2 linked regions of the Homo sapiens genome follow. The protein of the gene in region 1 purifies or fractionates together with the protein of each later gene. This does not show direct contact. Each region holds a gene or a part of one and is shown on either strand. Other genes may lie near its edges. The genes, in order: ANGPTL3 and ANGPTL8.

What was found.
Region 2: the proteins of ANGPTL3 (region 1) and ANGPTL8 purify together in Homo sapiens (co-immunoprecipitation; one study listed by IntAct). This does not show direct contact.

The regions. Positions count from the first base shown.
Region 1 is NC_000001.11:62,596,136-62,600,319, forward strand, and holds the start of ANGPTL3 (angiopoietin-related protein 3 preproprotein), read left to right. Parts: upstream 1-1,384; 5' UTR 1,385-1,431; coding exon 1,432-1,926; intron 1,927-2,560; coding exon 2,561-2,671; intron 2,672-4,184. UniProt on the Homo sapiens protein: Acts in part as a hepatokine that is involved in regulation of lipid and glucose metabolism. Proposed to play a role in the trafficking of energy substrates to either storage or oxidative tissues in response to food intake.
Region 2 is NC_000019.10:11,238,447-11,242,418, reverse strand, and holds ANGPTL8 (angiopoietin-like protein 8 precursor), read right to left. Parts: upstream 2,801-3,972; 5' UTR 2,782-2,800; coding exon 2,485-2,781; intron 2,285-2,484; coding exon 2,123-2,284; intron 975-2,122; coding exon 865-974; intron 760-864; coding exon 732-759; 3' UTR 476-731; downstream 1-475. Other genes in the region: DOCK6 (dedicator of cytokinesis protein 6), read left to right, coding at 212-374. UniProt on the Homo sapiens protein: Hormone that acts as a blood lipid regulator by regulating serum triglyceride levels. May be involved in the metabolic transition between fasting and refeeding: required to direct fatty acids to adipose tissue for storage in the fed state.

The sequences.
Region 1 (4,184 bases):
CACTACCTGTTTGCCCAGCACTGTTCTAAGTGCTCTACATGTATTATTGTTAAATTATCATAACACTATGAATTATGTACTATAATTACCCCAGCTTTACAGATGAGGAGACTAATCCATGGGGAGGTTAAGTAACTTGTCCAAGGCCAGACAGCTAGAGCCGGCTTTTGGACCCACACCACAGTCTGACTCCAGCACCCATATTCTTAACAATTTCACCATATTAATATGTCAAGATTAAGCAGTTTTAAAGGATGCTATTTTCTCACAAATTTCTTAATATGAACACTCAATAAGAATAATCACTAATATAAGCATTTAGTATTTTTTTAACACTAAGTTGGAAGCATAGTGGAACATTTATTTTTAGAAATATTATTAATTGGCTGGGCTCACGCTTGTAATCGGCTGGGCTCATGCCTGTAAATTTTGGGAGGCCAAGGTAAAAGAATTGCTTGAGCCCAGTATTTCCAGACCAGCATGGGCAATACATTAAGACATCATCTTTAAAAAAAAAATGTTATTAATCTCCTCTTTTTGTTAAATGTATATTATCAAAATTGTTACTAAGCTAACAAACTTCAGAAAAACTTATGATGGGCAAGCTGCTTGTGACATTGAAGGTATTTAAGATTCAATTCTAGTTTGGTCCTAGATGACCACATATCCATTGTTCCTTCAACGAGCACATGGTAAAGAGCCTAGAACACAGAGACACAGAACACAGTGGAGAAAAGGGAGTGAAATGTCTTTAATGACACTTACTATATATGGGATTTTGTGACAATATACAAGGATGGTTAAGACATATAAGGTGATGCAAAAAAACATATTAACAATTATAGTGACAAAAAATGAGGAGCATATAATTATACATTGATTTATACAGAGTACCAGAGGAACACAGCATTGAGAGCCGTAACACCACCTGAGGGAGTGGAGAAAGGCTTCAGAGAGAAAGTGTTTTTTGGAATGGATCACTGTTTCCAAAAGAACTAAAGTACAGTTTGAGAAATGCATACTTAATTCATTACTTTTTTCCCCTCAACTTTAATAATAAATTTACCCAACAAAAAAGTTTATTTTTGACTTGTAAATCTCTTAAAATCATAAAAAAGTAAAATTAGCTTTTAAAAACAGGTAGTCACCATAGCATTGAATGTGTAGTTTATAATACAGCAAAGTTAAATACAATTTCAAATTACCTATTAAGTTAGTTGCTCATTTCTTTGATTTCATTTAGCATTGATCTAACTCAATGTGGAAGAAGGTTACATTCGTGCAAGTTAACACGGCTTAATGATTAACTATGTTCACCTACCAACCTTACCTTTTCTGGGCAAATATTGGTATATATAGAGTTAAGAAGTCTAGGTCTGCTTCCAGAAGAAAACAGTTCCACGTTGCTTGAAATTGAAAATCAAGATAAAAATGTTCACAATTAAGCTCCTTCTTTTTATTGTTCCTCTAGTTATTTCCTCCAGAATTGATCAAGACAATTCATCATTTGATTCTCTATCTCCAGAGCCAAAATCAAGATTTGCTATGTTAGACGATGTAAAAATTTTAGCCAATGGCCTCCTTCAGTTGGGACATGGTCTTAAAGACTTTGTCCATAAGACGAAGGGCCAAATTAATGACATATTTCAAAAACTCAACATATTTGATCAGTCTTTTTATGATCTATCGCTGCAAACCAGTGAAATCAAAGAAGAAGAAAAGGAACTGAGAAGAACTACATATAAACTACAAGTCAAAAATGAAGAGGTAAAGAATATGTCACTTGAACTCAACTCAAAACTTGAAAGCCTCCTAGAAGAAAAAATTCTACTTCAACAAAAAGTGAAATATTTAGAAGAGCAACTAACTAACTTAATTCAAAATCAACCTGAAACTCCAGAACACCCAGAAGTAACTTCACTTAAAGTAAGTAGAAAATAAAGAGGGTTCATGTTTATGTTTTCAATGTGGATCTTTTAAAAAAAATATTTCTAAGGCATGCCATTTGAAATACTTTGTTGCATTGTTGAAATACTTTTTTTTCCAAGAAAAATAATCTCCAGAAAATAAAATTTCCTATTATAATTTCAAGTTAGTTTTTTGTTTCCCTAATGTTATATATGAAAACACTGAAAATTTGCATTTTATATGAAAATTACAAATCGGTTAAATTATACAATCTAGAACACTATGTCATTACACTATTGTAAATTACTGAAGGTAAGTAAAAAGTTAAAAAAAATTTAAAACTATTCTCCAGTGTTTAAAACAGATTAAATAATACAGTAAATGGAAAAGATTTATTCATATGAAAATATGCTGGGCTTTTTCTTTTAATTGAAGTTCAGAAAATCAAATTTTAGAGATAGTACAATTTAAATAAAATGTTAAGGACAAAAATATGTGCTATTTGAAAGAAGCATACAAGGGGAAGGAATTGCCAATATTCATTTTTCAAATCCATTATTAGTTTAAAAATTTAGATTATGATAGTGTTACAGGAAATTAATAGAAAAGAAAGAGGAAAGCAACTTATAACCAACCTACTCTCTATATCCAGACTTTTGTAGAAAAACAAGATAATAGCATCAAAGACCTTCTCCAGACCGTGGAAGACCAATATAAACAATTAAACCAACAGCATAGTCAAATAAAAGAAATAGAAAATCAGGTAAGTCAGTATTTTAATGGTATGTCCCATCTTTCACACAGGTCTGTAAAAACACTGAATCCTAAAATTATTTACAAGCTTTAACTGGATCATGAGTAAAATTATCACATCAGCATAACTGTTAAAATTGCAGGCTCTGAAGCTAATAAACTACCTGCATTTAAACCATGGCTCTAAAACTTTGTGTGACCTTGAATAAATTACTTCACCCCTTTATCTCTCAGTTTCCTCACATATACTACAAAGATAATAACAGAACTTATAGGATTATTGTAAGAAAAAAAATTAATTCATAGCAGCCAATGTCATCTTACTAAAATTCAAATTAGATCATGTTTCTCTTTGCTCAAAACCACACAATAGCTTTCCATTTCACTCATATTGGCTCTTTAGACCAAGATTACCCAACCCTTCGTCATCTCACTGACTTCACCTCCTCTACTCTAGTTATTCTGACCGCTTTACCAGTATTCAAACACATCAAACATACTGCCACCTCAAAGCCTTTGCCCTTGTTGTTTCCTCTAACTGGAACGCTCTTCTGCCCTGGTATCTACGTGGCCCACTCTCTGATTTCCCTTAGGGTCGTTATCAAACAAAAAATTCCCAATGAAGACTTACAAGGTCACTTAACCAAAAATCACAACCGCCTGGTCCCATCCCTGAAAACTTCTACTTCCTTAGCTACTTTTCTCCTGCACACTCACCTTTATTTAACATAACATAAATTTTAGTTATTTATCTCTTCTATTCCTGCACTAAAATGTAAGCTCTGTGAATACAGGGATTTTTTCCATTATCTTCATATTTTCCATTATTTGTATATACTCCAGAATATAGAATACTGTATGGCACACAGTAGGCATTTCTGTTGAATTAATAAATGTAATGTCATATTCACACAGAAGCGTGTGCTATGATTATTATTACTTGGATTACTAGAAATAGTGTGCCTCATAATTAAAGGTCAACATTCAACAATGTAATTAATCTACAATGTAAACATCTGGTGAAGTGACAGAGGGAAGCACTTGTTTAGAAAAAAGCTATGTCAGAATCCATGTATTCTAATATGCAGTACAATAGTTTAAAAATATTAATAATACTCTCAAACAGCTATTCAAGAGGATTCAAAAAACATAATATAAACTCAGAGAAACTGGTAAACAAAATCATTTTCAAGAGATATAAAACAAATATTATTACCAATTTCCACTAAACAAACATAATGTTAGTAGTGCTGCTAAAAGGTTTTTTATCAACTACTTTTGGTTTCCATACTTTCCTTCTTATGATGTTATTATTCTAAATTCTTTTCAATTATATCTTTTACTATGATTAAATGAACCTGCTCCCCAAAGCAAAATGTTACTATAGTAATATACATTGTGTCTAAAAATAAAAATGTGTGAAGAAACCAAAACAATGAATTTCTGAGTTGGAAGAAGAGTTAGATCATTTAACTTTCTCATATTTAAATTAAAAAAACAAAACTCTAAAAATTTAAGTAACT
Region 2 (3,972 bases), on another chromosome or scaffold:
CCACTTAAAAAAAAGAAAAACAAAAACGAAAAAAAATTTAGGGTGACAGACAGCAGAGTTGAGGGCAATTTCTGGCCTTGGCGCCTGAGGGACACAGCCCCCAGTCCCCAGAGAACATCATGGGAGAGTCTGCCCTGACTACACAGCCCAGAAAGGGTGGGCTGAGCCAGGAGGCTCCCAGGCAGGTGCAAACCGGTTCTTCCCTTCCCAGCCCAGCTCAAGATCGACATTTCTCCGGCTCCTGAAAATCCCCACTTCTGCCTCTCCCCTGAGCTGCTTCATATCAAGCCCTACCCGGACCCCAGGGGCCGGCCCACCAAGGAGATTCTGGAGTTCCCCGCCCGCGAAGTCTATGCCCCCCATACCAGCTACAGGTACGGCCTCTGGGGCCCAGCTGGGCACTTGAATGGGAGGTATTCATACATCATGCTGGGTGGGGTCTCCCTAAGCCAAGGACACACACAGACACCCTGGGTGAGATGCCACGACTCTGCTTTAATGAGGGGTGTGTAGGCATGAAAGGGTACATGTCCTTCCTCCACCCCTCCCCAATGGGGCTACATCCTCTGCCTTTGTCCCCGCCTGCGTCTGTCTCTGCTCTGTGCTCAGAAGTGGGGCCCGGCGCCCTGGCTGATCCCAGTGAACAGGCAGCTCCTCCCTGCACAGGGGCCTCACGGGGCGTGGAAGTGTTCCTTGCAGCATGATTGGTCCTCAGTTCCATCCAGGCAGATTCAGGCTGGGAGCGCCGCTGTGTGGAGTCTGGGGAGGGAGATGTGGCTCAGCCCAGGTGAGGGGGCCCCTTTCCAGCTGCCCTGTGCGCCCCCCATCCAACTGCCCTGCCTGCCAAACCCCTGCCAGGCTCACCTCTCCTGGATCTGTCGCAGCCGATGCTGCTGTGCCACCATCTCCCGCCTCTGCCGCTGCACGTGGCCTGTGAGGGCCCATAGGATGTGGCTCTGCTTGTCAGCGTGAGCCTGTGGGGGTCAGAATGGAAACCTCAGCCGACAGCCACCTCACCTCCCATCCCCTGACCCTCTGCCCCAGCCCCTCATTGTATCTGTGTGACCCAGCAAGTCAACAATGCTCTTTGGCCTCAGTTTCCCCATCTGTAAAATGGGGATAAAATAGGACTCACTTCATGGGGAGGTGATGAACATCCTATGGATTTTTTTTTTTTTTTGAGTCTCTCTCTGTCACCCAGGCTGAGTGCAATGACACGATCTCAGCTCACTGCAACCTCCACCTCCCAGGTTCAAGCGATTCTCCTACCTAAGCCTCCTGAGTAGCTGGGACTACAGGCATGTGCCACCACGCCCAGCTAATTTTTTGTATTTTTAGTAGAGACGGGGTTTCACCATGTTGGCCAGGGTGGTCTCGAACTCCTGACCTTAAGTGTTCCACCCACCTTAGCTACCCAAAGTGCTGGGATTACAGGCATGAGCCACCATGCCCGGCCATCATATGGATTATTAAAGGGCATAGAACAGTGCTGGGTACTTACTGGGTGCTCACAAAATGTTACCAGTTTCTCTAGTAGTAAGAATTTATTGGCCAGGTGTAGTGGCTCACACCTGTAATCCCAGCACTTTGGGAAACCGAGGCAGGCAGATCCCTTGAGGTCAGGAGTTCGAGACCAGCCTGGCCAACATGGTGAAATCCCATCTCTACTAAAAAATACAAAAATTAGCTGGTGCACCTGTAATTCCAGCTACTCAGGAGGCTGAGGCAGGAGAATCACTTGAACCTAGGAGGTGGAGGTTGCAGTGAGCCAAGATCACACCACTGCACTCCAGCCTGGGCAACAGTGAGACTCTGTCTCAAAAAAAAAAAAAAAAAGAATTTATTGAGCACCAACTGTGTGCCCGCCCCATGCTGAATATTTTACCTGCATTGAGTACCTGGCCCTACTGTGAGATATCAGGTGTTGCCCTTATTTGCAACTGAGGCACACAAAAGGGAAACTGAGGCACACAAAAGGACTTGAGTTTTGTCTGGGGACATGCAGGGTAGAGGCCACAGAGCTGGGAGGCTGATCTGGGAGGTCTTTGGGACTCAAGGTGCAGAAGCGAGTTCTGGCCGGAAATCAGGGTCTCAGCCCACTAGGGTTGGGGGAGCTCCTTACCTTTAAGACCTCAAATTCTCGGTAGGCAGGGCCCAGCCAGGCGCTCCTCAGCTGGACTTCTAGCCGCTGCACGCTGTCCCGTAGCACCTTCTGTGCCTGGGCCACCTCCCCCAGCACCTCAGCTGTGGCCTCTGCCTGCAGCTGCAGAATATCCTCCTCCATCTGCTTAATAAACAGTGGGTCACTAGTAGGATGTCCAACTCATCTTTGTGTACCTAAGGACTTGCCTGAGTTTATCGCTGAAAATCTTGTATCCCAGGAATCCCTTCAGTCCTGGGCAAACCAGGATGGTTGGTTACCCTAGACACGAACTCCTCTTTGGACTCCTGGCCACCCCACAGTGTCGCAGCTACGGTGCCCACCTGAGTCTCCAACAGGCTTGCCCGAAGTTCCTGGGCTGCATCCCGGCCCCGGCTGACCTCCTGCCCCAGGAGTTCTATTGTGCGGCCATAGAGACCCAGGCTGTTCCTGGCCTTTGTCAGCCGTCCCTCCGTGGTCCTGTACACACCGTTGAGGGCCTGGCCCAGCTGCAGGGTCCCATGGAAGAGCAGGGTCAGCTCCTCATGCTGTGCCAGTTCTGGGCCGCCCATGGGGGCCGCTGAGGCAGGCCGGGTCACCATTGCCAGGGCCCAGAGCAGGCACAGAGCAGGCACTGGCATGACTGAGGGTCTAAGGTATAGCCACAGCACTGTCACTGAAGCCTTTTATGCCTCATACCCCCACTGATCCCCAGTCAATCGTTAACTGGCCGACCTGGTGCCCCGCATTGCACAAGGGCCTGGCAGTGGTGCGATAGTTGCATCAGGCGAATGTCCGGCTAGGCCACGCCGGGATCACGCTTCCTGGGGCTCAGGGCCAGGTGTGGGTGGGGGGCATTGGGAGAGGACGGGCCCCAGACCCTGCTGGGAGTTCCTGAGACTCACCATGCTGAGCCTGTTTCTCCATCTATGAATAGGCATCGCAATGATGATGGTAATAACAGTAAAGATTTTATAAGCATTGATGGTTTGCCCTGAGCTGTTTGACCTGCCATTACAATATCTGCTCTTGTTCCCCTCCCACATACTTGCCACGTGGGGGCTTTTATTGGCCTGGTTAGTATCCAAGGGGGCAGGTGCAGGTGGCAGAGACTCTCCCAAGGTCACACAGCCTGATCTCCAAGACCTGCATATGCCCAGATCACCACTGACTGCCATTTTACTCCGTGGGTGATTGTGCAAGTACCTCAGTTTCCCTGCTTGTAAAATGGCGGTGATGTTAGTCCTGCCTCATGAGCTACTTGTGAGAAGTAAATGAGTTATTTCATGTTGAGTGCTTAGAACAGAGCCTGGCACACAGTAGGCGCGATTATTTCATTGTTGTAGTAATAGTGTTTGGTGCAATTATTGTCATTGTTGTTATTTATCATCATCAGTATCATTACAAAGGCTCAGCTGGAAGGCCTGAAGTGCCCATTATACACATAGGGAAACTGAGGCCCAGAGAGGGGTCAAGGCTTGCACAGAGTTGCCCCTGGGGGAAGGAGGCAGGACTCGGACTCTGGCCTCAGTTTCCCCACCTGAGAAACAGGCCACATAACTCTAGTGACCTCCTGGGGGAAGGGCAGTCAGGCCCTTGGGTGGGGCTTAGGCTTGACCACTGGCCACCTGAGGTACCTTGGAACTCTGGCCCTGAGTGCCTCGCTATTCTCTGCCTTCTGTGTGTCACTGTGCCCCATGAGTGCCTCCAATGTCCTTCTGTATTCCCACCCTCTACCACACTGTTCCCAATCTGTGTTTTTAGGGTGCTCGCTTGTCCCCCACCCTCTGCCCTCTGTCCTATCTCCTGACTGATACCTGTATTACCTCTCA